Regions from separate parts of the Homo sapiens genome. Here all the other regions are linked to region 1. The links come from fine-mapping of genetic effects on plasma protein levels. Region 1 holds a variant in brackets. A gene starts in each other region. All regions are shown on their forward strands. Distances are between the middles of the regions.

Region 1 (4,948 bases):
TCGTCTTACAAGAACCCCCTTATCCTGTAGACATATTAGATAAACCAAATTTGGCTCAAACCTGCAAGCCGCTGTCTCTGTCTTCGCTTTTTAGTCAAGAAGAATAATGCGACGAAAATGGCCAACAGAACAACCCCAAGGATCCCGACTGCAATAAAGGATGACTGACGGGATGAGCGACCTAAGTAAAAGTAAATATCAAGAGATATGATCATGTCTTATCGAAAAGATCAAGGTCCCTAGTTACTGATTCTCTCTTAGGTCAAATACTTGATCCCTGAGGTAAATATCAAATCCTCAGAACGTCTGACCTAAAATTTCTAAACAAGAAAAATTCTATGTATGCAGATAATTGGTCTCATCATCATAAACTCCATGATATACCTGTTGTGGCTTTTTGTGGGGTTTTCTGCACTGAAATATCTGTAGGAGAAAAGAAAGAGAGAGGGTTAATTCTTTGCATGATATATAGAACAAGCCTTCTGATTTCCTTGTCTGACCCCTTAGTACCTCTCAACCAAGTATATGACTCTTTCCCACCTAAAACTAGAGTCCTCTAGTCTTTCTTTCTCTGCACAGGGAATATAGGTTGTATGTGTCTCCTTGGTGAAGGCCGTTGTATAACAATTGTTTTCATCATTCTTTCAGTAGAGACATTATGATTCTCTGAGAATCCCCACCAGATCCCTGTGCTGATAAATCCGGTTTTTACACAACACACATCACTGCCCAACCCCTCTTTGCTGCCAGAGATTCCAAGCTCAATCCAGGCTTCTGGCACTTACCTGTGCAATTCACTGCAGCGTCTTCCTTGTGCCCACACTCACTATGGCCCCAGCGTCTGGCAGGACAATCCCACAAGGAAGACTCATTCCCTTTGCACTTCACTTCATTGAGCCATATCGGTCCAGTCCCCTGACCAAACTCTGCTTCTTTGAATGCTTTCAAAGCTGGACCACAGCCAAGTTGTTGACACACCACCTGAGCATCGTCCAAGTCCCAAGAGTCATCACACACTGTCCCCCAGGAACCTCCATGCCAGATCTCCACACGTCCAGAACAGGAAGTGGGTCCTTCCTGAAGTCTTATCTTGTCTGAAAAATCAGAGACATGTAGCCTATTTCTAAGACTTCTAAAAGTTTCCAGGAGTTCACAGGTGAAAAGAGAGATTTGAAACTTAAAAAAAAAAAAAAACTATTTAAAATTTTACTGAATGTGCATATTAAAATTTATATATATATATGTATATATATATATATATTTTTTTTTTTTTTTTTGAGACAGAGTCTCGCTCTGTCACCCAGGCTGGAGTGCAGTGGCACAATCTCGGCTCACTGCAAGCTCCGCCTCCCAGGTTCACACCATTCTCCTGCCTCAGCCTCCCAAGTAGCTGGGACTACAGGCGCCCACCACCACACCCGGCTAATTTTTTGTATTTTTAGTAGAGACGGGGTTTCACCATGTTAGCCAGGATGGTCTCGATCTCCTGACCTCGTGATCCGCCCACCTCGGACTCCCAAAGTCCGATTACAGGCGTGAGCCACCGTGCCTGGCCTAAAATTTATATTTTTACAAAATTTATCTTTTATAAGAGGACTTGTCATTACAGCCAACTAGGTATATTCCATCCTGCACATAAGATACATAATGTGACCCAGTAAATGTTAAATGATTAAAGTTAACATTATAAATATGTGATGTCAAATTCTTTCAAATAGGCAAGATCTTGGGAAACTGGCAGGTTGTCACAAATCTCACAGTTTAAGAAGATGTAGAGGCCAGGCACAGTGGCTCACACCTGTAATCCCAGCAATTTGGGAGGCCAAGGCGGGTGGATCACCTGAGGTCAGAAGTTCAAGACCAGCCTGGCCAACATGGGGAAACCCCATCTCAACTAAAAATACAAAATTAGCTGGGCATGGTGGCTCATGCCTGTAATCCCAGCTACTCAGGAGGCTGGAGCAGGAGAATTGCTTGAACCAAGAAGGCAGAGGTTGCAGTGAGCCAAGATCACGCCATTGCACTCCAGCCTGGGGAACAAGAGCAAAACTCTGTCTCAAAAAAAAAAAAAAAAAAAACCTGTAGAATGTGGAAATACTTCAGAATTGATCTTTCTGATTTCTGACTGCTTTTCTCCTTATATTAGTGTAACAAGATAATATTTGAAAGAAAAATGGGAAGGTAAGGTAGACCATTCAACAGTCAAATATTAAACCACATATTCTCTCCTCCTCAGAGAAAGCAATTGAATAAATCTTTCAAGCAGACCATGGGGAGTATGATATTCTTTAGAATAATAATAGCTGATCCTGAATATCTACAGGCCAAATTAAATAAAACCAGTTACACTATCCAGGTAGAATAGATATTACCCACAAGTTACCCATTCTTGCTTAATTCAATCTAACAATTTAAGCCAGTGTGAGAATAGGAAAATAAAATCCAGTGTCCATTATCAGAAGATGATAGCGGGGCTGCAGAATGGAATTTTCATATAGGTCGATGGATACTCACTGTCACATGTGATCCAGGTCTCCTCCGAGGGGCTGGCCAGTCTCTTCTCCCATGGAGATGATGGGCACTGCCACAGC[G/A]TGTCAGGTCCTTTTGGACACTGAACATTGTCCACCCACATGGGAATGGACATGGCCTTGTCTAAAGATGCAGGGTTGATTTTCCCTTTGTCTGCACAGCCCAGCTGCCTGCACACCACACCCACAGTGGTTTCAGACATGCTACTCTTGCCAACAGTGCCCCAAGCTCCATTGTAAAAAACTTCCAGACGCCCTGCACAGGCCTCTCTGCTGGCTTCACTGGTCAGTCTCAGAGACATGAATTCTGCAGCGAAACATAGAATTAGTAGTTTTGCATCTTTTCTGAAGATTCAGAGACTCCTTCCCTTTACCTTGATGTAAGAATGGCTTTAAAAATAGGTACAATAGTACAATATGTCAGTTACTAATAATTCGTTAGTAACTTCTGGATGATTTCATAGATATTATTAAAATATTTTATTTATTCTATAAATACATTATAGTTTTTTGGTCTTTGGTTTTGGACTCAGAGTCCTCTTTAGATTACCCTCAATCATTCTAATAGGCTTTTTTCAGTTACATAGTTTGGATTTTTTCCCAAAAATATTCTCCTTTTTTTGCAACTGTCTTTGATAGTTAAAATTGTTAGACACTCAGGCACTAAAATCAATGTTTTGTGTACATCTCTTAAAATGACAGTTCATTTGCTGACACTTCACAGTTTTGCAGTGCATGTCTTCTACCAGATTTATGTCATTAAAATAGGAATAAATCACTTCTGAGATACAGAGTTTTTCACTTCCTTAAGTTACTGAATCATAGTTCTGTTCCCCATAATACATATGAAATAGTACATTTTTAAATTTCAGAATGTTTTCTAAAACTCACCATGTATACAAAGCAGTATGAGGGCAGTAACCTCATGCTACTTTTTGTTTCTATGACAAGTAAGTCTCATTTATCTGCCATGAAAAATTGCTTGGGCATAGTAATTATCTTTTTTTCTGTAGAATGATGCAACATATATATTTCTTCTTGTCCCTTTAAATCTACTTCTTTACTAATACTGTAATTATCAAGTGTTGCTATTGGATCGCTATCTAATATCTGGCCCCAAATATATTTATTAAAAACCTTCATTATTAACTTTGTTGTCATTTTCATGATATACAAGACCATTTCTGGTCTTTTCTCTTTACAATGTTGCACTACCTTGCTCATGAAGTACCACTAGCACATCAAACCCAGACTTCTGTTGTCCTGACTCCCACAATAGTTCCTTTTGGATCAACTTTTCAGGAAAATCTTTAAGATTAATACCCCTCACTACCCTTCCTCAGTCCTTTCTCTATGTAATTATGACCAAAGGTCATATGCATAATTTACCTGAGCAGATAACTCCCGCATCCTCCTTGTGCCTGCAATTTTGCTGCCCCCAGCCGTGTGAATGGCACTGCCAAATGCGGGATTCTTTTCCATTGCATTTCATCTCATCCAGCCAGATGGGCCCTGTTCCTTCCCCAAAATGAGCAGAACCAGTGGCATTAATGGCCTCTCCACAGCCCAGCTGTCTGCAAACCACGTGGGCATCACTCAGGTCCCAGCTGTCATCACAGATGGTGCCCCAGGAGCCCTCATGATAGATCTCTACTCTCCCAGCACAGCGACCTCCTCCATTTACCAGGCGAAGTTGACCACTCTCTGCAAAGAGAAATGAAACTATTAATAATGAGCATTCCACTTGTTATTAATATTTTCATAGATTTGTCACAGAGTCTTACCTATGCAGGCCACAGCACTTTCTTCTGGAATGGTAGGCCTTGTTGGGCCCAAAGACGATGAATTGCACGAGGACAGTGTTTGGGACTGGTTTCCTGCAAACACCAAGGTACTCAGTCATACAAGACACAAAAGGTTAGGGGAGTCAGATGAAATGTTATATGGATGAGTTGAGGACAAACATAGCTTAGAGAGAGAGGGGAAGGTGGATGGTCAACAAGTTTGAAATAAATCAGGTGCTTTGAGATGGGCTTGGCACATAGTAAGCACTGGATAACTAAGAAGTCCATCAAAATTAGGTTTGCTCACCCTCTGAAAAGACAAATGAGGTTAATATTCTGAAGCATGAATTAGTATTCATTCTTCTCATGACCCTTCAAAATGGATCACTGCGTTTTACTTTTGTTCTTCATCCCTATGTACACCTTCTCTTAAGACCCATCACTGGCTGCCCGTCATCCTCTTACCTGAGCAGATTACAGAGGCCACTTGCTCTGAAGGACATAATGAAGCACCTAGAGCAGTTACAGGACAATCTCCCATGTGCTGCTCAGTCCCAGTGCAGTGAAACATATGCCTCCAGATCTGACCATTTCCTTTTCCAAAACGTGCTCCTCCTGGGGTAGAAAGGGCAACTC
Region 2 (4,948 bases), not on the chromosome of region 1:
CCAAGGACCCATCCCCATCTCTTCTCAGAGTCTCCAGGGGACCCCCTTGTGTCATACCCAACCGTTCTCTTACCTATAGCCAGGACTTGAAGTGCTGTCAGCAGGAGGAACATTTTAGGGGCTGAGGGCCAGGTCCTGTCAAATGCAGAGAAAAAGTGAGAGAGAAGGAACCTTCAACAGAACCGGGGGCTGAGAGGCAGAGACAGCAAGGGGCACTTACCCAGAGCCCAAGACCCTCAGGGACATGAAGACACAGCAGAGAGGTAGGGACCAGAGACGAGGGGGGCGGGGCCTGCAGGCTCTGCGGGCGGCAGGTGGGAGGATGTGGAGCAGGGCACAGGTCCCTCCTTGATGTCTTGATGAAGGAAGGAGGGGAGGTGTCTCTCTTCCTAGTCACACTGGCAAAGCCTTTTATCCCTGGTAAGGACAGCTGGCCCTGCCCCCACCTCCCGCCGCCCTGCTTCTGACATTTTTTTTTTTTTATTGCCTAGTTCCCATTCCAGGACTCCCTGATCCCATCCCCTCCCTCCCCTGTCTGGCCAAAAAAGCAGCCACAATTGTTCATGAGAACCCGCCCAGGGAAGATGCTATAATCTAGAAGGAATCCTGGGAGGGGACCCCAGGGCAGGGTGGGCAGGGGAGGGTTCCCAGTTGCTGGAGGTGGTGGATCTAGTGGTGGAGTCAGGAAACCAGGGTGGGGAGTGTCAGAGGAAAGGGCACGAAGGGGCTGAGAGAGGGAGGAAGAGATGGACTGAGAGAGGGAGTCACGGGAGGAGGGAGAGAGGGAGAGAGAGAGAGAGAGAGAGAGAGACAGAGAGAGATGGAGAGAGAGAAAGACAGAGAGACACACAGACAGAGAGAGACAGAGACAGGGTGACGGGGGGGAGAGAGAGAGAGAGATGGAGAGAGAGACAGAGAGAGAGCCAGACAGAGAGACACAGAGAGAGAGAGAGAAAGAGAGAGACAGAGACAGAGTGACAGAGAGGGGGAGAGCAAGAGACAGAGAGAGACTGGGAAAATGAATGAGAAGATATGACAGTGGAGAGAGAGGAGTCCAGGAATACGAGCACAGAGGCAGGTGTGCTCATGAGAGAAGGAACTGAGGAGAGAGCTGGAGAAACCGGTGGAAGTTGGATGTGACAGGGAACAGAAGAGGCAGACGGTGGGAAAAAAACAAGACAGAGGAAGAGGGAGACACAGAGACGCAGGGAGAGAGGGGTGTGGAGAAGTGGAGATAGAAAAGCAAAAGACGGAGGGAAGAAGGTGGAGATAGAATGGAAACAGACACACAGAAAGAGAAAACAGTGGAGAGAGAGGAGAGAGGCCGAGACGCCCCCACCATGCGGCACTCACCACAAACACACACAGAACAACAGCGATGATGATGAAGGCAGTGCGGGCATGAGACGTGGAAGAGAACGGGACATGGTGGGAGAAAGAGGATGGGACAGGCAGGCCGATGGCAGAGGGGAGACGGGAAGGATGGGCACCTACAGGGGATGGGGACAATGACAGAGGAGACGGAGGCCTAGATGAGAGATGGCAGCGCCAGGGAGAGATGGAGAGGAGGGGTGGGATAGAGGACGGGCAGGAGGTGGGCGGGAGATACCTGGACCTGGAGCAGAGCTGCCCACCTTGCTTTCTCACTTTCGACTCCTGAGAGATGGGGGAGCAGAGGCCCCAGCAGGGAGCAGGAAGGTTGGTGCCAGAACTGGCATTCCCCAGCTTGGGATCTGCTAGGTGCAGAGACAAAGTGAGAGCTGGAGATGCAAAGAGAGAGTGACAGAGACCCAGAGAGGGGGACAGAGACCCAGAGGGAGAGGGAGAGAGACCCAGAAAGAGAAGGGGACAGAGATTCAGAGACAGAAGGACAGTCTTAACAGACGGGGTTGGAAATTCAAAATAGGAGACGGCAGAGAGCAGGAGAGACAGAGTGAATGAGATGGGGAAGGATTCTGGCCAGCCTGCAGGGGGGTTCTGGAGTTGGGGGGGTTCCATCCTCATTTGGGGGAGGGCCTACCCTCCTCAGCCCCTCCCCTAGCCCCTTAAATTCCCCAGTGCTTGTGTCCGTCTCTGGGCCTGGGCAGCCCCGTACCTGGACCACGTGGTGACTCAGGAGGCTGCTTGCCTCCCTTGGCTACCCCAACTGTTCCCCGGCCTCAGCCTGACTCAGCCTCCCTCCACCTCGGCACCCCCCTAGGCTGGCTCTTTGAGCTGGAGCTTGGCCTGGGTCTGTCTGTACACCTGGGGACGCACTGTCTGGGCACCTGCATCTGGAGCCACACACCCATCTCTCCCCAGGTGCCTTTCTGTGATTCCTGAACTGTTTCTGTTTAACTATGGGCCTCCCTGCTTTGAGCTGAAGGCCTTGGGAAGCCTTCCCGGCCTCCTCTGCCTTGGTTCAGGCTCGGCATCAACACAAGAACCCCCTCTTTATTTTTAAATTTTTAAATTTATTTTATTTATTTATTTATTTTATTTTTTTTTCTTTTTTTCTTTTTCTTTTTTTTTTTTTTGAGACAGAGTCTCACTCTTTAGCCCCGGCTGGAGTGCAGTGGCTCAATCTCGGCTCACTGCAACCTCTGCCTCCTGGGTTCAAGCGATTCTCCTGCCTCAGCCTCCTGAGTAGCTGGGGCTATAGGCACCCACCACCATGCCCCGCTCATTTTTTTGTATTTTTAGTAAAGACAGGGTTTCACCATGTTGGCCAGTCTGGTCTCAAACTCCTGACCTCAAATGATCCACCCTCCTTGGCCTCCCAAAGTGCAAGGATTACAGGCATGAGCCACCACACCCGTCAAGAACTCCCTCTTTTAAGAAAGGGTTCTCTTGGGACCCAGGGATGGGGTGGCAGGAGGGAGCTGCTCTGTGGTGACGAATCAGCTTTGCACTGGATGTGGCGGTGATTACACGATTCTACACATGAGATAAAGAGACACAGAAGCCCACGTGCACACACACACGTGCAAAGAAATGCGTGTGAAAAATGAACGCGCAGTGTGATCTGTAGTCTCATTAATAGTTTGGTTTCTGTGTTGATTTCCTGGTTTCCATTCTGAACGACAGTTACACAAGGTGTCGCCACGGGGAGAAGTAGGTGAGGGAGATTCCCTATGCTGTGTGTGTAGCCTCCTGTGAGTCTGTAATTATCTCAAAGGAAAAAGTTAAAAATAAAACAGAATTTCCTAGTAAACACAAGGTCTCCCTGTTCCTAAAAAGAACACCCTACTTAAGCAGAAGGCCTTGGTCAACCCCCAGGAGCCTGGGAGTGGCTCCTTCATGCCACTCTATCCCTGAGATCCAAGAGAATCCTTTCTTTAAAGGGTGGCAGGGGGGCAGGTGCTGTGGCTCACGCCTGTAATCCCAGCACTTTGGGAGGCCAAGGTGGATCACCTGAGGTTAGGAGTTCAAGACCAGCCTGGAAAACATGGTGAAACCCAATCTCTACTAAAAATACAAAAAAACTGAGCTGGGCATGGTGGTGGGTGCCTGTAGCCCCAGCTACTCAGGAGGCTGAGGCAGGAGAATCGCTTGAACCCGGGAGGCAGAGGTTGCAGTGAGCTGAGATTGTGCCACTGCACTCCAGCCTGGGTGACAGAGCGAGACTCTGTTGCAAAATAAATAAATAAACAAACAAATAAATAAAGAGGGGGTTCTTGTGTTTATGCAGAGCCTGAGCCAGGGCACAGAATGACTGGAAGGCTCCCCAAGGCCTTCAGCTCAAAGGTAGGGAGACAGCTGGAGATGCAGCTGATGAGGCCCAGTTCACCGCCGGTGGCTCCCAAGGACTTGCCGTCCCCAGCCCGGACCTCAGCACCTGCCGTGCCGTGGCCAGGTTGCTGGGCCCTCTTCCCACCACATGCTAGGTTCCCAGGGTATCTCGCTCACCACTCCACCACCTGCTTGGCACGGTCTTGTTTGCTGTGCCACGGGCATCGATAAACATCTGATGAATGAATGAACACAGAGCCTCAGTCGCTGCTCCTCTGTGAACTCACGGTCTGGTGAAACAGGCCAGCGGGGCAACAGGAAACTCCATCTGGTGTCACGTGTGCTCCCCTGGAGGAGGCTGAGGGGCTGGATGGAGCCTCAGGTGTGGGAAAGGGTTCCAGGAGGAGGGGCAGTCTTAGCAGGTTCCTGCAGATGAATAGGAGTTTGCCAGGGAGGATGGACAGTGTGTGGAGAGGGTAGGAGGGAGGTGAGTGGTTTCGAGTAGGGATGGTGGGGCAGGAGGATGGTGAGAGAGCTCAGAGCGTAGGAGAGAGGAGTGGCCAAGATGAGCAGGGCCCTGGTGCTGCAGGGGCGAGAATTTTACTCCGAGGGTGATGGGGGATGGTGGCATGATCCTGAGTAGGGGAGAGCAGAATCCTTCGGGATACTCAGGTCTGGAGCTCAGGAGAGTGATGGGGCATCACGGCACGGATGGTGCTGGATACCAGCGGTGTGGAGCCCACCTAGGGAGAGGGTATACAGTGAGAGGACCCCACTGAAGACTCACAGCTCAGGGGGTAAGAAACAGTTATGCCAGGGGTAGGAGTGATTGAAGAGCTAAGAGGGACACCAGGAGGGAGCAGTGTCAGGAAAGTTGAGAGCTTTTTTTTTTCTTTTTAAACAGGGTGTCACTCTGTTGCCCAGGCTGGAGTGCAGTGGTGCAATCACAGCTCACTGCAGCCTTGAACTCCTGGGCTCAACCATCCTCCCACCTCAGCCTCCTGAGTAGCTGGGACTACAGGCACGTGCTACCACAGTCAGTTAATTTTTGTATTTTTTTGTAGAGACAGGGTCTCACGATGTAGCCCAGGTTGGTCTCCAACTCCAGGGCTGAAGTGATTTGCCTGCCTTGGCCTCCCCAAGTGCTGGGATTACAGGTGTGAGCCACTGCGCCCAGCCAGAGAGCATTTTTTAAACGAGGGAGTGGCAGGGGCGGTCAGATGCCTCTGGAAGGAAG
Region 3 (4,000 bases), not on the chromosome of region 1:
ATTCCATCTCAAATGCATCTTGATTTTTTCTCCACCTTTCCCATCCTGACCTCCATTGTTTTATGTCAAGATGTTACTCCCTCTTGCCTGCATGATGGCAATAGCTTTCTCTGCCCCCCTTCCACTTGTCTCCATCGACCCTGTCCCCACAGTGAGTCATCTAAAATGCAAATCTGACCCTGTAGCTCCTTTGCTTAATAGCATCCTATTGCTTTAGGGCAAAACCTAAATACAGCCCGGCCTGGAGGGCCGGATTGACCTAGCTCCTTCCTATGTCTCCAGCATCATGGCTCAGCACTGCTCCTCTTCCTCATGTTTCTGCTGGGCAGTACAGAATGGCTTACAGTGCCCTTTAGTGCCTTTGACCATGCTGTGTCCTCTTCTGGGAATGCTCCCTCCTCTTCCCTGACTCTCTGCACAGCCTTTCAGACTCAGCTTAGGGGTCACCCCTTCCAGGAGCCTTCCTCAAGCCTCAGGCTGTGTTAATGCCTTATCTGTTTGTTTACTTCCCACTGGAGTCTTTACTACATTGGATTTTCACTTTCCTGGCTTCCCACTCAACCGTGAGCTTCCTGAAGCAGGAACTGTGTCCCTCTGTGTCTATCTTTGGTGCCCAGCACAGTCCCCAGCACTGTCTAAACAAATGAGGGCCACTCGATGGTGAGGTAGGACTCTTACCACAGGTGATTCTGCTCCCCGAGTTGCTAAACTTGTAGCTCAGAAATTTGGTGCCACATCCACGTTTCTCCAGACGTTTGTAGCAACAGTCATGAGTGACACAGCAGCTGTGAGGAGACACCCTGTTGGGGCTCTTGTCCCACAGCTCCAGGAGGCCTGGTGCCTGTGGTCTCACCCCCTTGGACCCTGGGCAGAGACCCAGTGACTTTGCAACAGTCTAGAGCAGAAGTTCCAACATGCCGGCTGCTTTTCCAGCCAGGCCATCCTGAGACCTCTGCGCCCATCAGGAACCGGCACTGTCTTTGCAGCTCCCAGCCCTGCCTGGGCCAGAGTCTAGGAGGGTAGGGAGGGATAGGTGGCCTCACCGATCCGTTGCATCCTTGGGGGATCCTCTGCCACCCACGCCACAGTGGCAGCCGTAGAAGCCATAACTGAGTGCGGCTTCCTTTCCTGTCGTCAACTTGATCATTCTGTGGAAATTCACCAAATTCCCATGGGCCTGCAGTAGGCCTGGAAGGAAATTTGGGAGTTGTCTGGTGATGGGGCATGGGGTTCTGCGCCCTCCCTCTCTGCCCCTCTCTGCTACTCTCCTTCCTCCCAAATGGCTTCTTTTTTCCCCCTGAGAGAGGATCACTGCAATGGGAGAGAAAACTAAGGGACAAGAGTGCTTCCCTTCTGGGGCTGTCCCCCCATGCTCAGAGGTCAGGGTCAGCTCTTACCAAAGATCATGATCACTGCCAACAGTAGGAGGGTCTTCATGGTAAGAGTTCTTGGGTGACAAATGCAGATGGACTGGCCTAGCTCCTCTGCTGGGTGGTCTCAACTTCTGCCCCGGCCGTCGCTCCCCTGCTCCTCCTTGGTGGCTCTGAGACACACAGACATGCTCTCCCATCCAACCTAAGTCCAGGGTGACTTCCTCTGTCACACTCAGAGCACACAAGGAGTGCCCTCCAGCAATGCACACACACACACACACACACACACACAACCACCTCCTGACCCGTTCCCAGCTCTGCAGAATGGTTTCACACACATCAGGCCCTCAGACCTGTGGAGAACCCCATGATACACTAATGAGACCTCCCCTGTACCTCATCAGACTGAGAGTTCTTGGGAGGTTGGAACCAGGTTCCTCCCAACTACCTGGGAGGTTCCTGAGGTCAGAGGATGTGTCCCTCGCTAGACATAGCTTGCATATCCCCACACTGGATTCAAGGCTTGGAGTCTCCAAGGCACCCATGGAGGCTCGGCCTCAGTATTTTCCTCCAGAATGAAAGCATCAACCTCTCTCTTCTAGGCCTTCTAACCCCTTCCACATACACAAGTTCCCAAACACATACATGTTAACACACCTATGCCCACATACACACACTCTCGTACTTACCTGATAGTGCCAACATCCTCTCTTACACTACACTCACATACTCACTCAACACACTCATGCACACACACCCTCTCATACATATCAAATCATGCACATGCATGCACAACACAGCCACTCTCAAAGGCAGCGAATGAGCAGGAATTCTGCTCTTGACAGGACATCAGCTTCGCTGGCTCTTTACCTCTCAGAGGACTCCAGAGTTGTATCCCCAGGCCGTCTTGTTTGTTCTGCACTCCTGCTCCCCTTAAATAGCTGCTCCCTCTGGGAGGTTGGGGGTAGGTGAGGCACAAGGCTGGGGATGGGCGTGGTCAGTTGGTGGACTCAGGATTGGTCGCCCATACCCCTAGGTAATCCCTTTCCTTCCCCTCATCAGCTGGCAGGACAGAGTTGAGGATTGGGAAACCTTACGTGTCAGTAGCTGATGCCAAAACACATTTCAGGCAGTTTTGCAGTCTTTCCATGGAGTAAATTCCCATAACCAGCTCTGGGTGTGATCAACGGTCAGCCACCTCCCTGCAATCGCCTCTAAGGGGGGCAGAGACTGTCTGCTGTTGCAGGCTGTGGACTCATTTGCACACCCAAAGGGACTACCAATTGCTGAGCAAGGATTGCTCCCTTCTGCTCAATGTGGCATTTGGGAATAGAAAAGAGGGCTTTTAGTGGTACTCATTCATTCAGCCGCTCAATCATTCATTCACAGGAAGTATGTCCTGGGCCTCTACCATGTTCCAGCACCTGTGCAGGCCTCACGTGTGCACCCCACAGTCCACCAGGGAGAGAGTTTAATGGGGGTGGATTTCCCTTCCCACTAACTTGGGCCAGGGCCTCAACTTTCTCTTCTTATTCTTCTTTCTTCTTTTCCTCCACCCCTGTCTCATATGAGCTTCTAAACCTGGAAAAAGCCAGAGGCTATCCTTGAAGTTCCCACCAAAGCACTGCCTTCACTTTATTCCCCATCCTCACCTGTTTGGAGACAGGGCAGGTGAATGCTCCCTGGATCTGTTGCTCTTTTTCCTTCAGCCTTCGGGCTGACACTGACTCCAGCTTTAATTCATAAAGTAAATATCTTTTTCATTGCTCTCCAGCACATGCTAAGAATTTAGCTTCCACCGCCTTAAGTAAACACTCTGCGATACCAGTCCTAAAAAAGTCACTGTGGCAGGGGCTGTGGTGCTTGTGAACATTCCATCTGTTCCCTACACTCTAGAGCCCCTTGCAGGGATGGAGACCTAGGGCCCTGCTGCTGACTGGTAAAACATGAGCACTGGTATGAAGGGTCACTTCCAGGTTTCTCCAGCAAGGGGACTATGAGATGCAACTCCCCAGCCCTTCCCTGCCCCACTGGTAGAACCAGAAGATGAAAGCAATCTGGGGTGTAAGAATCATGGCACGGAAGACAGTTGTCCTAGAAAGTCCTGCAGCTCACAGGGGTCTTAGTGTGAGTGAGAAATAGACTTTTGTTGTATTAAGCTGATGATAATTGAGATGGGCAGTTGCTGGAGCATAACCTAATCTATCCCAAGAGCCATCAAACAGCTTTCCTCTCGAGAATACCATTTACCTCCAGTGCTCGACTGTGTAAGGGGTTGGACTGTGGTCCTCCTTCCTGCTCTCAGTTCCTGTGTTGGAGTCCCGGTACCTTAGAATGTGATCTTATTTAAAAATAGGGTCATTGCAGATATAATTAGTTAAGAGGAGATCACTAGGGCAGCTAGGATGGGCCCTAATCCAAGATGACAGATGTCATTACAAAAATGGGAAATTTGGAGACAGGCAGGCACACTGGGAGAAGGCCATACAAAGATGAAGGCAGAGATCAGGGTGAAGCTTCTACAAGCCAAGGAATGGCAAAGATTACCAGAAAACACTGGAAGCTAGGAGAGAGGGATGGAGCAGATTCTCCCTCACAGCCCTCAGAAGGAATCAACCCTGTTGGGC
Region 4 (4,948 bases), 110 Mb after region 1:
GAGGATTAAAGGAGACACTGCCCAGAACCAAGAAAATTAACACTAAATCATGGCTGTTGTTACTATTATTTCCCCCCGGCCTACTGAGAACCAACTAGAATTCATAGGTCAAGGAAGGGATAAACCTACTGCTACAGGTGATTGCCGAGCCAGAGCACGAGTATGAATAGGTGTGGGTGTACGGGTTGTCCAGCAGAAATTTACAGCTGTCCAGCTTCTTGGCCTGGTCATAGCAGTTGTCATGTGTCTGGCAGCACCTGGAAAGTGGGAGGGACAGCTGAGATAGGAGTAAGTGCAGAGCAATAGGTCAGCCCTCACCTGCCCACTCTCAGGAACAGGTGGGGATGACTTCGCCAAGATGCTTCAGGAGAAATGATCCTATGGCTTGAAAAAATATAAGTCCTTTTATCATATATTTATTGAAAGCATTTTTTTTTTTTGAGACAGAGTTGCTCTGTTACCCAGGCTGGACAGCAGTGACACGACCTTGGCTCACTGAAACCTCCAACTCAGTCTCCCAAGTAGCTGGGGTTACAGGCGCTCGCCACCATGTCCGGCTAATTTTTGTATTTTTTAGTAGAGACAGGGTTTCACCATGTTGGCCAGGCTGGTCTCGAACTCCTGACCTCAAGTGATCCGCCCGCCTCGGCCTCCCAAAGTGCTGGGATTACAGGCATGAGCCACCGCGCCTGGCCTGAAAGCGATTTTTAACATGGTTGCAAGAATACAGTAAAATCCTGTATTCAGAAGGTGCAGTGACAACCACTGCTAGAAAATGACACGTGGATAGTTGCTGTGATGTTTACTGTTGCTACATTCTGCCACTGGAGGGCAGCATCGCCCACTGTTTTGCACGTCGGTCATTGTTTCCATCTCTAACGGGGTGCGTTCGCTACAGGGTCCTCTTGGAACATATTTGTTTATTTGACAAGAGGTGAAAATATGTTATCCTTAGCAGATATGCAAGTCCCCTTTGTATGCCTCGTGAGATCCTTGGCGTGTGCCCCACCCCGCCCCCGGCAGGCACTCCAATTTTCCTGCAGGCGGATCACTTACTTGTCCAGTTCATCCACGGGGGTGCCTGAGCCCCCCAAGCCACAGTAGCAGCCGTAGTTGTTGTATTCCAAGAAGGGGTCACTCCCCGGGATCACGCACTTGATCATTTTGCGGAACTGCCACACGGCCCGAGGGCTGATGCCGCTGTCGGCGGCGGCCACTGCAAGAAGACATAGCCAGAGTTCAAATCGGTCTGCCAGCACCCCGGGGACACACTGCCTTCCTGCTCCCTCGGGTCCCACGCTGCCTCCCTGACCCCTGCCAGCTGCCTCCTCTGAAGACCGTTGGACCCAGGAACCTGGTAAAGTGAAAGTGGGTAGAGGTTTTTTTTTTTTTTTAATGAAAACTTTATATATATAAAGTTTATATCTTTGTGTGTGTGTATATATATATATATCTTCTTCTTTTTCTTCTTCTTCTTCTTCTGGGACCCTACCGCCTCAGCTAGGATTACAGGCATGTGCCACCCAGCTAGGCCTGATAGTTTTTTTTTTTTTTTTGAGATGGAGTCTTGCTCTGTTGCCCAGGTTGGAGTGCAGTGACACGATTTCAGCTCACTGCAAACTCTGCTTCCCGGGTTCACGCCATTCTCCTGCCTCAGCCTCCCTAGGTCAGATAGTTTTAAACTATCTGCACTGTTTATCCAGTGAATATTTATTGAGCACTTACTATGTGCCAGGCTCTGTCCTAGGAGCTAGAGATACAGCAGTGAACAGATATAATAATAATAATAATAATAATAATAATAATAATAATAATAATAATCTCTAACCTCATGGAGCTTACAACCTAGTGGGAGAGAAAAACAATAAATAATAAATGTGATAAGGCCGGGCACGGTGGCTCATGCCTGTAATCCCAGCACTTTGGGAGGCCGAGGCAGGCGGATCACAAGGTCATGAGATCGAGACCATCCTGGCTAACACGATGAAACCCCGTCTTTATTAAAAATACAAAAAAATTAGCGGGGCGTGGTGGCAGGCGCCTTTAGTCCCAGCTACTGGGGAGGCTGAGGCGGGAGAATGGCGTGAACCCAGCAGGTGGAGCTTGCAGTGAGCCGAGATCGCACCACTGTACTCCAGCCTTGGCGACAAAGCAAGACTCTGTCTCAATAATAATAAGAATAATAATAAATGTGATAAGTAAGGAAACTGGATACTGCATTAGAAAGGGGAAGAATAGAGCAGGATGAGGAGAATCTAAAAGGGAGGTCACCCAGCCTGGCCAACATGGTGAAAACCTGTCTCTACCAAAAAAAACACACAAAAAATTAGCTGGGCATGGTGGTGTGTGCCAGCTACTTGAGAGCTACAAGTCCCAGCTACTTGAGAGGCTGAGGCAAGAGAATTATTTGAACCCAGGAGATGGAGGTTGTAGTGATCTGAGATCACGCCACCGCACTCCAGCCTGGGCGACAGAGTGAGCCCCGTCTCAAAAATAAAATAAAGTAAAATAAAAATAAAAATTAAAATAAAATAAAATAAATGGGAGATTGGCCTAACTACTTAGTTGAGTAAGGTGGGAGGATCACTTGAGCCCACGAGTTGGAAGCTGTGGTGAGCTATGATCATGCCACTGAACTCCAGCCTGGGTGATAGAGCAAGACCCTGTCTGGAAAAAAGAAAATAAAGGCAAGCTTTCTTAGCTCAGGCAATCTGAGTTCAGACTTGCAGGTTGAAAAAGTGCCAGCCTTGAGGGAACCCCAATAGAGGAGCCCTTAAGCCCCACTGGGAACCTCGAATTGAGACTGCGGGGCTGGCCATCCCTGTTTGCTGTGGCCTGTGGCCCCCATTCCAGAGGAGTGAGATCTTAGCTCACTTGGGAGAGAAAGGCGGGTGGAGCCGGGGAGACTTGCCTACCTGTGAGCAGCACAGCTAGCACAAGGAGTTTCATCTTGCAGTCAAGGTGAGAAAAGAACTGAGATGACCAGTCTCAGGTATAGTCTTATAGTCAGTCTCCACACAACCCTGCCCAGATAAGGCTGGAGTGTTTGCTTTGCTCTTGGCTGAGTTTGGGGCTGGCCTTGAATCTGTCTGTTGCAGGAATGACCCTGACGATTTGCCAGCATGGGATCACTGGAAAATATGTTATGCATTTGTCCTTAGCAACTGTTAACCAAAGGGATGGTTTCTGGAGTTTTCAGATCTTACAATCTTGACCCTCATACCCACCACTTTGTACTCAGCCCAGCTTCACGGGCTGGTTGGGGAAAGCAAAGCCGTCAGTTCAGTCGGACGCTGGGATAAGGGAGACAAGAAGGAAGTGCAGCCTGGGCAACATAGAGAGACCTCATCTCTAAAAAAAAAAATGTTAACCAGGTGTGGTGGTGGATTGCACCTGTGATCCCAGCAACTCAGGAGGCTGAGATGGGAGGATCTCTTGAGCCAGGGAGGTCAAGGCTGCAATGAACAGTGATTGAGCCTCTGCAGCAGAGTGAGACCCTATTTCAAAAAAAAAAAAAAAAAAAGAAAGAAAGAAAAAAGATCGCTGCCTGCAGCCTCAATGTCTTATCAAGTGCCTGAATCTGTGCACTGGGTCTGGTTGAATAGTCCCATCAGTCGTGCACCTTGCAGATAAAGAGACAGGTTCAGAGAGTTGCGGTAACTTGCCCAAGGTCACACAGTTGGCAAATGACAAAATAGGGCTCCAGTTTAGATCTGTCTGATTCCAAGGCAGAGGTTTTATTTTTTTCCACCACTCCGCTCTGCAGTGTGGGTTTGTGAGAAAAACCTGGGCTTTGGATTCCAAAGGCCTGAGTCTGAATTATAGAATACTAAAGGGCATTAGAACTGTCATATCAGAGGCCAGGCACGGTGGCTCATGCCTGTAATCCCAGCACTTTGGGAGGCTGAGGCTGGCAGATCACCTGAGGTGGAGAGTTCGAGACCAGCCTGACCAACATGGAATAACCCTGTCTCTACTAAAAACACAAAATTAGCCAGGCATGGTGGCTTATGCCTGTAATCCCAGCTACTCCGGAGGCCGAGGCAGGAGAATGGCTTGAACCCTGGAGGCGGAGGTTGCGGTGAGCTGAGATCACGCCATTGCACTCCAGCCTAGGGAACAAGAGCAAAACTCCATCTCAAAAAAAAACCTGTCACATCACATATCTATTTATTTATATATATTTTTTGAGACGGAGTCTTGCTCTGTTGCCTAGGCTGGAGTGCAATGGCGCGATCTTGGCTCACTGCAAGCTCTGCCTCCCAGGTTCATGCCATTCTCCTGCCTCAGCCTCCCAAGTAGCTGGGACTACAGGCACCCACCACCACGCCCGGTTAATTTTTTTTTTTGTATTTTTAGTAGAGATGGGGTTTCACCGCATTAGCCAGGATGGTCTCGATCTCCTGACCTCGTGATCCACCTGCCTCGGCCTCCCAAAATGCTGGGATTACAGGCGTGAGCCACCGCGCCCGGCCAAATATCTACATAACATTGTTTAGCTGAAATTCACATAACATTAACCACGTTTAAGTAAACAATTCGGGGGCATTTAGTACCTTCACAGTGTTGTGCAACCATCACCTCTATGGGGTTCCAGAACATTTTTATCACTCCAGAAGGAAACCCTGTACCCATTAGCAGTCACACTCCCTCAGCCCCTGGTAACTGCTAATCTGCTTCTCTCTCTCTCTCTCTTTTTTTTTTGAGACAGAGTTTCGCTCTTGTCGCCCAGGCTGGAGTGCAATGGCACGATCTCGGCTTACTGCAACCTCCGCCTCCCAGGTTCAAGCGATTCTCCTGCCTCAGCCTCTCGTGTAGCTGGGAATTACAGGCGCCTGCCAGCATGCCTGGATAATTTTTGTATTTTTAGTAGAGACAAGGTTTCACCATGTTGGTCAGGCTGGTCTCAAACTCTTGACCTCAGGTGATCCACTCCTCAGCCTCCCAA
Region 5 (4,948 bases), not on the chromosome of region 1:
CCCAGGGGTCCAGGCCCCAGCCCCTCCCCCCACAGACCCAGGAGTCCAGGCCCCAGCCCCTCCTCCCTCAGACCCAGGGGTCCAGGCCCCAGCCCCTCCTCCCTCAGACCTAGGGGTCCAGAACCCCAGCCCCTCCTCCCTCAGACCCAGAAATTCCTTTCTCTGGCCTCTCCTTCCTTACACTCAGAAGTCCAGACCCCTAACCTCCTCCTCCCTCATACCCAAGAGTCCAGACCCTAGCACCTTCCTCCCTCAGACCCAGGAGTCCAGGCCCCCAGCCCCTCCTCCCTCAGACCTAGGAGTCCAGGCCCCCAGCTCCTCCTCCCTCAGACCTAGGAGTCCAGGTCCAAGTCCCTCCTCCCTCAGGCTCAGGAGTCCAGGCCCCAACCCCTCCTCCCTCAGACCCAGGAGTCCAGGCCCCCAGCCCCGCCTCCCTCAGACCTAGGAGTCCAGGCCCCCAGCTCCTCCTCCCTCAGACCTAGGAGTCCAGGTCCAAGTCCCTCCTCCCTCAGGCTCAGGAGTCCAGGCCCCAACCCCTCCTCCCTCAGACCCAGGAGTCCAGGCCCCAGCCCCTCCTCCCTCAGACCCAGGAGTCCAGGCCCCCAGCTCCTCCTCCCTCAGACCCAGGAGTCCAGGTCCCAGTCCCTCCTCCCTCAGACCTAGGAGTCCAGGTCTCAGTCCCTCCTCCCTCAGGCCCAGGAGTCCAGGCCCCAGCCCCTCCTCCCTCAGACCCAGGAGTCCAGGCCCCAGCCCCTCCTCCCTCAGACCCAGGAGTCCAGGCCCCAGCCCCTCCTCCCTCAGACCCAGGAGTCCAGGCCCCAGCCCCTCCTCCCTCAGACCCAGGAGTCCAGGCCCCAGCCCCTCCTCCCTCAGACCCAGGAGTCCAGGCCCCAGCTCCTCCTCCCTCAGACCTAGGAGTCCAGGTCCCAGCCCCTCCTCCCTCAGACCCAGGAGTCCAGGCCCCCAGCCCCTCCTCCCTCAGACCCAGGAGTCGAGACCCCCAGCCCCTCCTCCCTCAGACCCAGGAGTCCAGGCCCCCAGGCCCTCCTCCCTCAGACCCAGGAGTCCAGAACCCCAGCCCCTCCTCCCTCAGACCCAAAATTCCTGTTCTTCAGATCCCTAGAGACCCAGGAATCTAGGCTCCGATCTTGCCCTTCCCTGTGGAACCCAAACTTCTGACTCTGTAGTTCGTTTTTCCCTAAAAGGCCCCAAATTGCAGACTTCCAGGCCCTCACTGCTCAGGACCGGGAGTCTAGGCTGCAGCCCCTACCTCTCGAGAGCAGAGTCAGGCTTGGAGCCAGCATCACCCTCTCCCCTACAGGTGCACCCTTGATGAAGCCTCTTCTCACCTCGAGAGGATCTGATGTGATCCAAGTTCCGACTTGGGCTGGCACACAGCTGGGCTCCAAAATCTTCATCCCTCTGCTGGGCCGTCCTCTTATATCACCCCCCGCCCCATGCCCGGCCCCAGCGCCCTGGGGTGCAGGCGGAGCCGACTCTGGGACACCCCCGCCTGCATTTGCGGTTCTGGTTATCTGGAACCCTGACGCAGCGAGAGCAATTGGCACCACTGCACTCTCTCTCCACCCTCCCTCCGAAGGACGGGCGGTGCCCAGCTCCTGCGCCCCCGCACATTCTGGTCCCACAGTCCCTCCTGGCTGCTCTCGGGGGAGGGACCCGGTGCGCTGGGTCTGAGGGGCAGGAGCGGGATTCAAGCAGTCGCTGAGCTCAGAGAATAGGCTCTGGCTCGGGTCCTTCTCTGGGGCGGTTTTCTTTCTTTCTTCCCTCCTCCCTCCCTCCCTTCCTTTCTTTTTTTTGGATGGAGTCTCTCTCTATCGCCAGGCTGGAGTGCGGTGGCGCGATCTCGGCTCACTGCCAGCTCCGCCTCCCAGGTTCAAGTGATTCTCCTGCCTCAGCCTCCCGAGTACCTGGGATTACAGGCACGCACCACCACTCCCAGCTAATTTTTGTATTTTTAGTAGAGACCGGGTTTCACTATGTTGGCCAGAATGGTCTCGATCTCCTGACCTCATGATGTGCCCGCCTCGGCCCCGCAAAGTGCTGGGATTACAGGCGTGAGCCACTGCGCCCGGCTTCTGGGGCCATTTTCTTGCCCTCACCCCCTCTCAGGGGTGGCCTAGACCCTACATCCTAATTCTGGCCCGCCTGGGGGAACTTGTCCAAGCTGATCCCAGTCGTGCCTGTAATTACGCCTGAACCCATTCCCAACTCTAACAGAGAGGTGTAAGTTAAAAACAACGCTTTCCCTAACCCCACCCCACTAATATTTGCCATGTTTAGGATCTATGTTCTTATGGTCATTTTAATCATGTTATACATAGATTTCTTTGTATATTATGTATTTATAACAAAAATGTCTGTACTTAACATTATCTAATAGAACATTTTTGAGGGCTTCATTTATTAATTTATAAGCAAATATTTATTTTTCTTTTTTTAACTTTTCAGTTCGGGGGTACATGTGCAGGATGTGCAGGTTTGTTGCGTAGGTGAACGTGCGCCATGGGGGTTTGTTATACAGATTATTTAATCACCCAGGTATTAAGCCTAGTACCCATTAGTTATTTTTTTCTGATCCTCTCCTTCCTCCCACTCTCCACCCTCTCATAAGCCCCAGTGTGTGTACCCAAAGGAATATAAATCATTCTGTTTAAAGACACATGGACACGTACGTTCATTGTAGAACTATTGACAACAGCAAACACAGGGAATCAACCTAAATGTCCATCAGTGATAGACTGGATTAAGAAAATGTGGTACGTATACACAATTGAATACTACGTAGCCATAAAAAAGAACACGATCATGTCCTTTGTAGGGACGTGAATGGAGCTGGAGGCCATTACCCTTACAAACTAAAGCAGGAACAGAAAACCAGATATGGCATGTTCCTACTTACAAGTGGTAGCTAAATGATGAGACTGCATGGACACATAGAGGAGAGAAGAATCTTTCTTATTTTTTTTTTTTTTTGATGGACTCTGGCTCTGTCACCCAGGCTGGAGTGCAATGGCACGATCTCGGCTCACTGCAACCTCCACTCCCCCGTGTTCAAGTGATTCTCCTGCCTCAGAGTCCTGAGTAGCTGGATTACAGGCGTGCACCACCATGCCCAACTAATTTTTGTATTTTTAGTAGAGATGGGGTTTCACCATGTTGGTCAGGCTGCTCTCCAACTCCTGACCTCAGGTGATCCACCGGCCTCGGCCTCCCAAAGTACTGCGATTATAGGCCTGAGCCACCGCGCCCAGCCAAGGATTTTTGCTAAATGAGTAGATTATAGCTGCTCTTGCCACAGGGGAGGAAAATGGGTAACTATGTGAGATGATGGACATGTTCATTTGTTCAGCTATAGTAATCATTGTCCTATGTATATACATCGCATATGATCATATTGTACACTTTAAATATACACAATAACATTTATTTTTTAAAAAGAGGAAAACTTTTCCCTCTTTGTACATTTAGATTACTTTTCCTTCCTTTATAATGGTTGTGTAATATTCCATACTATACTTGTATCATGATGCATGTCATCTGCCTCAAATTGAAATACACTTGGATAGTTTTAATTATAATAATGCTGAGATGAACTTCTTTGTACATTCATCTTTGTTCATTGTAGTCATTCAAACAGCATCCATTGAGCATCTACTCTGTGCCAGAAACTATTCAGGCTCTTGGAGACACAGCAGTGATAAAACAGAGAAAAATTTCTGTCTTCATAGAGGTTTTTGTTTTGTACTGTCAGGTCAGCACAAAAATAAGCAAATAAAATGTAGAGTTTGTTAGGTGGTTGTAAGCGCTATAAGGGAAAATCCAAGCAAGGAAGAGGGTTGGGGAGTTACTGATTCCCTCTACCCTCGAGGATCCCTGAGGTTATAATATCAGGAAGGTTGGCTGCAAAGACCCCACGTGAAGGTGATATTTGAGCAAAGTCTTGAAGGAGATGGTGGAGGGATCCAGGTGGCTGCTTGAAGGTAGTGAGTTCCAGGCAAAGCGAGCAGGCAGGTGTGTTAGCCAAGGAGCATATCTGAAGTGCCTCAGCAGACAAATCACTGCGACCAATACAGAGTGACCAAAGGAGATGAGGGCAGGTGATGAGGCCAGAAATATAACAGGACTCTGATGACATGCGGTCTGAAAGGTCTTTGGCTTTTATTTTGAGTAAGACAGGAACCATTGTTGGACACACTTCTAAAGTTGGAATTGACCTCAACCTCTAAATTATATCCCCAAAATGGGATTTATTTCTCCACCCTGGACCTAAAACTTATCTCAATCCTGACCCCAACTCAATTCTTTTTTTTGCTTTGTTTTGTTTTGTTTTTGTTTTTGAGATGGAGTTTTGATCTTATTGCCCAGGCTGGAGTGCAGTGGTGCGATCTCAGCTCACTGCAATCTCCGCCTTCCAGGTTCAAGCAATTCTCCTGACTCAGCCTCCCGAGTAGCTGGGATTACAGGCATGTACCATCACACTTGGCTAATTTTTTTTTTTTTTTTTTTTAGTAGAGATGGGGTTTCTCCATGTAGGTCAGGCTGGTCCCTAACTCCCGACCTCAGGTGATCTGCCTTCCTCAGCCTCCCAAAGTGCTGGGATTACATGTGTGAGCCACCACGCCTGGCACCCCAACTCGATTCTACATTTGACCCATAATAGTAGACATTATTGTTGTGTCCCCAGGCATTCACTCCTTCTGCCTTTCTATCAGAGGCTCCATTTTGTTTGGATAATACTTTATCCTCATCAGGACTATAAGCCTCAATGAACCAAGCATTGAAGCCATATTTCGTTTGCTTAATTAGTTGGAAAATGGACATGTGCTGTTCTTCTGGCCAATGAGGAGGAGGGGAAGACCACTGAGGCACTTCTAGGAAAGACTTTCTCATTTTCAAAAAGAGGCACTGAAAGGGGACTTTTTTCTTC
Region 6 (4,948 bases), not on the chromosome of region 1:
TCGCCCTCTCTAACGGAGTTAGGAGGGGCCAGAAGCCCACAGAGGGTGGGCAAGGGACCAAGACCACGCGCCTGGGGCTCCCTTCCGCACCAGGAGAAACAATGGTAGAGGGACGCGGGCTGGCAGCCGGACGGGGAGCTGGGGGTCCAAGGATCCCCGGGTCCCCTCTCAATCCCAATCCCCAGTAAAAACTGAGGCGCGTCCCCGCCCCGCCCTGGGAGAGGCGGAAGTGGGCCGCCGCACCGGGCGCCGCGCCCCTCCCCGCCCTGTGCCCCGGATGTAACGCCCCGTCGCGGAAAGCGGGGTAGCGGGCGGGATGGGCGCCGCCGCCTGGGGCATAGGACCTACGGGCAACTGAGGGACCCACTCACGTGCAGCCGCCATTCGCGCCGCTTCCAGGGCAAGCACCCAGTCAGGGCCTCTCGCTGCGCGCCCTAGACCGCGCCCGCCCCCACCCAAGTCCCTCCCTCAGGGTCCAAACCGGAGCAGTGCCCCGGACCGCGCAGGCCTCGCAGTACCGTGATGTTGACGAACGTTTTCCCGGGGACGGCGGCCCAGACGGAGGGCGAGTCCTTGTAGCCCACGATGGCCGCGTCCTGACAGGTCCCGTCCGCCATGAGGTTGTCGATGTAGGCGTTCCACCCGGCCATGGCGCTGCTACTGGGGCTGCTCTCGGCGCTGCTGCTGGGGCCGCGGACTGGGCTCGAGCTGCCTCGGCTGGCGGGCGGGGGGAGGCGGAGAGCTCGGGGCACGCGCTGCCGTCCGGACCGCGGCTCCGCTCGCTGTGCAGCAGCCCTCGCACCGCCACTTCCTGCTCCTCCCCCCCCCCGCCCCGCTAGATTTTTATTTGCAAAGGACGGTAGGGGCGGGGCCTACTCCCCATTCCCTCCCTCCCCCACTCGCCAGCCCAGACACCGAACTTTGCAAATGCAATTTTAAAAATCCCTCCCCCTATTGCAAAATTTGCAGAGTTCGATGGAAAGCAATGCAGAAGGATGGGGGGTGGCGGGAGAGAGGTGAAGGGTAGGGTTTGCTCCAATTTGCACTGAATATAAACCAGACTTTGGTATCGGGGCAGGGAGTGAGCCAGAAGAAGGAAGGAAGGAGAAAGCAGGAGGAATTAGCAAGCTGCAAATTTAGCAAATTAAGGAGAGTTCGGGGAGCCCAGGGTTAAACGGGATGACTCCTCCTTCCCCCACCTCCGCCGAAGGGAAGGACCGGCGGGCGGCGGCGCGTGTGCCCGCGCCTGCGCCTGCGCCGGGGCCGGGAGTGCATGGGGCGGTCGGGGCCGGAGCCGGCTGCACGGGAGCGCGCCCGGCCCGACCCGTGTGGACCCTGCGGGAAAGGAAGGCGGGCTGGGGACGTGTCTCCCGCCTGGCGGAAGGGGCGGGGGCGAAGCCGTGCGCGCTGCCGCCTCACCACCCTTGATTTTACTTATTCAAGTAATAAGAAAGCAAAGAAGAGTTTGGCCAAATCCTCTAGTCGCTCTCATAGCTGAAGGCACCCACCGGGGCCACTTCTGTCCCCAGCGTCTTCTCGGGTCGTGCAGGTTGGGTTCACCAGGGCCCATTCTCAGTCTAGAGGATTGTCCCTTCTCTGGATCGGCTCTAGCCCAGGGCCTCACCCCACATCCCAGCCCCGCCCGCCCCAGGCAGGCAATGTCTGGATCACCGGCCGTGCCCCTTGGCCTGTGTCTGCAGAGGTCACAGAGCGCGGACACCCGCGGGGCTTAACAGGCGGGGCTATTTTTCGAGGCGGAAGAATACTCAAGTTGCAAGAGTGGCAACTTTTTCAAGAAGGGGAAAGTCCCACTTCGGGCCCTTTGGGTTTCTTCGCAGTCAGATGTGCGCTCACAGCCACCTGGGGAGGGCGGGACGGGCGGGACGGCCGTGCGGCGGCCGCGGTGAAACCGCCTCCTCCGACCCGCCGCCGAGGGCTGGGCGGCTTCCGGAGCCTGGGCTAGGGGCAAGGGGTCACCGAGCGCGGCCCGGGCGGAAAGGGGGTTGGTTTTCTCTCTCCTCCCGAGCGCGGCGCGCATCCCTGGCGTCCACGCCGAATCCCACAGTCCCCGACGCCCCTCGAGTCCGTGTTCCTCGACAGCCGCGCGGCTGAGTCACTGGCGGGCTCGGGCGGGGCCGCACCCGGGCACGTGGCGGCGCTCCCCGCCCGCCATCTCCTGACCCCTGGCCCACCGCACCCCTACCCCAGGGTGGAAAAATCCCGGGAGGAGCGGCCTGAGATGAGGGGGCGGGGCGAGAGGGGAGACTGGACGGGTGGCGGGGCAGGTGGCCTGGGGTGGGGGCTGGGAGGCCGCGCGGGCCGGCGGGGCGGGGAGCAGGGGTGGGGAGAGGGCGGCGGGGGTGAGTCACCGGGCGCGCGCTGCCCCGGCGCCGACGGGAAGGGCCTCCGAGTCGGGCCGAGGCGCCGTGTGTCCCCCGCCGGTCGGCTGGTATGGCTGCAGAGGAGCTCGGGGCAGACCCCGCACTGGCCCCAGAGCCGGCAAAGTGGAGATCTCTACCGAGGGCAGAGACCTACCTCCCCGCAGTGCTACAAGTGGGGCGCCGGAAGAGCCCCAGGCGTGCAGAAGCTCACAAAAGGCCACCCGTCCTCGGTCCATTCATTTTTGTTCACTGTTGATTCAGCCCCATTCATTGATGGGCTGGGGCCGTGCGCTGAGCGCCCACAGTCGATGGGGAAAGGGGCTCTGACCGACAGTCCCCACGCCGGGCGACAAGTGCTGTCCCAGCGTTATCAGTCGGGCGCCTTGCCAGCCGAAAGGGCCTGTCTAAATTCGTTTCCTGTCCCCTAACTCATCCCGGCGCTGGCTGGCCTGGAGAGGGTAGGATGGGGCGGCGCCGAGAATGGCCGTTATGAGGACCCTAAGAGGTGAGACCCTCTCGCCTTCTGGGGTGGGGGGTCCCGTCCTTTCCCCCACTGAGGACAGAGGCCCGCCCAGCGATCTGAGCATGTGTGGACGTCAATCTTGCAGCCCCTCTTCCAGGCCCCCTCCCCAGCCTTGCAGGGCTCAGGTTACCCCTGGCCTTTCCTAAAGGTCACTCATTCCTCTTGACGTTTGCAAAAGGGGAATGTAATCCTGGGGTGGGGGGAGACCCCTCATCTGTAGCCCCTCCCTTGCTCCTCCCAAAGGGTGGAATTAGAACAGGGACTGTTATTGGGAGACAGAAAGTGGGGGATAGTAGTTGACCTTTGGTAAGGGGGCAGGTGCCCAGGGCCAGAGGCTTCTGCTTCAGGCTGTAGTGGGCACTTGGCTGCCAGCCCAGTGTGAAGGGGGGAGGATGGAGAGAAAGAGAGGCGGGGCTGGCTGGGGACCGAGTGGCTCAGGGATAAATGCGCAGCCTGAGAGGGGGTGAGCTGACACTGTCCCAGCTGCCACCTAGACTCGGAGCTCCATCCAAACCTCCAGCGAAGACATCCCAGGTCGGGTGAATCTTCCAGCCCTGGGGGTGGAGGTAGTAAAGGGTGAGCATGGTATTGGCTTGGAGGAAGTGGGGGACATTTCTGCTTTTTTTCCTCCTGGGACTGGAGATGCTTGAAAAAGCTGGGGGAAGGGGCGGCTGGAGCAAGCAGATGGGACAAACTCTGGGAACACCGAAGGATCTAGGGAAAGGAGGCTGTGAGGAGGGCAGCAGGGATGGATAGAAAAGGGCAGCTAGAGCTGGAACCTGATAGGGAATTGGGGGCCCAAGGAGATTTCGGAGCAGGAAAATGAGAACCAGAAAGGATTTGAAGGCCACCAGCCATGGAGAACAGACTGCTTGACCAGAGGGGTGGAAGGAGAAGGCCTAAGTGGAGGCTTGGGGGAGGTGGGGGCTTGGTGAGCGGTGGCATCCCAGGAGCTATAGATAAGAGGCCCCTGGATTCTTAGGATGGGAGGGTGGAATAAGAGCTGTTCTGAGTGGGGGAGGGGGCTGCGCCTGCCTCTTTGGTCTGTGACCTTTTTGTAGGGTATTTTTAGCTCCAGCACCTGCCTTCTTGGAGTGGGGAAGAATCTTAAAGGGCAAGGGATTTCTGGTTCCTTAAGAGATCAACTGTCTACACTCACTCACACCTCCTGTCCTGCAGCCATGGCCATGCAGAAAATCTTTGCCCGGGAAATCTTGGACTCCAGGGGCAACCCCACGGTGGAGGTGGACCTGCACACGGCCAAGGGTAACACAAGGCCCATTGGATAGGCTCGCCTCCGAAGACCCCAACCCTTTGGCCTTTGCCCCCCAGTTCTGTGCCATATCCTCTCCTTTCTCTCGGGTTCCCTTTCCCAGACTTCTTCCCAAGCCCCCTTCTTCCAACGTGGAACCAGAGCTGGAAGCTAGGAGAAGCAGGAGTCTCTCTCTGCACTGCCTCCTGTCCCTGAGCTCAGAGAGGACACCTCAGCCCTTTGAGAGGTAGAGAGACTCCCTGTGAGGTCCTTTTTTTTGTTTTGTTTTGTTTTGAGATGGAGTCTCGCTCTGTGGCCCGGGCTGGAGTGCAGTGGTGCAATCTCAGCTCACTGCAACCTCTGCCTCCCGGGTTTAAGTGATTCTTGTGCCTCAGCCTCCCAAGTAGCTGGGATTACAGGCCTGTGCCATCACGCCCAGCTAATTTTTTTTTTTTTTTTTTGAGATGGAGTCTCACTCTGTCGCCCAGGCTGGAGTGCAGTGGCGCGATCTAGGCTCACTGCAAGCTCCGCCTCCCGGGTTCACGCCATTCTCCTGCCTCAGCCTCCCGAGTAGCTGGGACTACAGCTAATTTTTTGTATTTTTAGTAGAGATGGGGTTTCACGGTGTCAGCCAGGATTGTCTCGATCTCCTGATCTCGTGATCCGCCCGCCTTGGCCTCCCAAAGTGCTGGGATTACAGGCGTGAGCCACCGCGCCCGGCCTCAGCTAATTTTTGTATTTTTAGCAGAGACGGTTTCGCCATGTTAGCCAGGCTGGTCTTGAACTCCTGAT

Direction of the effects. Positions count from the first base shown, and alleles are read on the strand shown. Strength reflects both the effect of a copy and how common the allele is.
As copies of A replace G in region 1, the plasma level of the protein whose gene starts at base 386 in region 2 goes up (moderate association).
In carriers of allele G in region 1, the plasma level of the protein whose gene starts at base 2,282 in region 3 tends to be lower than with A alone (weak association).
For the plasma level of the protein whose gene starts at base 2,975 in region 4, allele A in region 1 goes with a higher level than allele G (weak association).
In carriers of allele A in region 1, the plasma level of the protein whose gene starts at base 1,416 in region 5 tends to be higher than with G alone (moderate association).
As copies of G replace A in region 1, the plasma level of the protein whose gene starts at base 3,375 in region 6 goes up (weak association).

Evidence for each region. PIP is the posterior inclusion probability: the model's chance that the variant is causal. Protein levels are from antibody-based Olink assays in UK Biobank. Linkage for the fine-mapping came from a reference panel and not from the study's own genotypes, which makes the PIPs less certain.
Region 2: it holds the start of KLK14, and the variant in region 1 is fine-mapped to the plasma level of the KLK14 protein (UK Biobank, PIP above 0.99).
Region 3: it holds the start of PLA2G2A, and the variant in region 1 is fine-mapped to the plasma level of the PLA2G2A protein (UK Biobank, PIP above 0.99).
Region 4: PLA2G1B starts here. The variant in region 1 is fine-mapped to the plasma level of the PLA2G1B protein (UK Biobank, PIP above 0.99).
Region 5: KLK7 starts here. The variant in region 1 is fine-mapped to the plasma level of the KLK7 protein (UK Biobank, PIP above 0.99).
Region 6: ENO3 starts here. The variant in region 1 is fine-mapped to the plasma level of the ENO3 protein (UK Biobank, PIP 0.96).

The regions. Positions count from the first base shown.
Region 1 is chr12:7,482,582-7,487,529 of GRCh38, forward strand. CD163 (CD163 molecule) reads right to left here. Exons shown (of 17, transcript NM_203416.4): 8 at 4,778-4,948; 9 at 4,313-4,405; 10 at 3,918-4,232; 11 at 2,515-2,835; 12 at 786-1,094; 13 at 385-423; 14 at 62-181. Among named protein-coding and RNA genes, the nearest start is that of CD163, 19 kb to the right of the region's middle. The variant G/A (reference allele first, on the strand shown) is at 2,592.
Region 2 is chr19:51,082,502-51,087,449 of GRCh38, forward strand. KLK14 (kallikrein related peptidase 14) reads right to left here and starts at 386. Exons shown (of 6, transcript NM_001369775.2): 1 at 221-386; 2 at 74-135. The coding sequence starts at 113. RefSeq lists a silencer at 4,091-4,385.
Region 3 is chr1:19,977,337-19,981,336 of GRCh38, forward strand. It overlaps PLA2G2A (phospholipase A2 group IIA), which reads right to left and starts at 2,282. Exons shown (of 5, transcript NM_001395463.1): 1 at 2,244-2,282; 2 at 1,398-1,543; 3 at 1,044-1,188; 4 at 679-785. The coding sequence starts at 1,437. RefSeq lists an enhancer at 926-1,425.
Region 4 is chr12:120,324,805-120,329,752 of GRCh38, forward strand. It overlaps PLA2G1B (phospholipase A2 group IB), which reads right to left and starts at 2,975. Exons shown (of 4, transcript NM_000928.3): 1 at 2,916-2,975; 2 at 1,057-1,216; 3 at 130-257. The coding sequence starts at 2,949. RefSeq lists an enhancer at 872-931.
Region 5 is chr19:50,982,502-50,987,449 of GRCh38, forward strand. KLK7 (kallikrein related peptidase 7) reads right to left here and starts at 1,416. Exons shown (of 6, transcript NM_005046.4): 1 at 1,350-1,416. RefSeq lists an enhancer at 1,151-1,705.
Region 6 is chr17:4,947,745-4,952,692 of GRCh38, forward strand. ENO3 (enolase 3) reads left to right here and starts at 3,375. Exons shown (of 12, transcript NM_053013.4): 1 at 3,375-3,438; 2 at 4,084-4,170. The coding sequence starts at 4,086. PFN1 (profilin 1) reads right to left here and starts at 786. Exons shown (of 3, transcript NM_005022.4): 1 at 519-786. The coding sequence starts at 650. RefSeq lists silencers at 56-285, 656-995, 1,126-1,375, 1,836-2,245, 2,296-2,525 and 1 more and enhancers at 1,576-1,745, 3,907-4,641.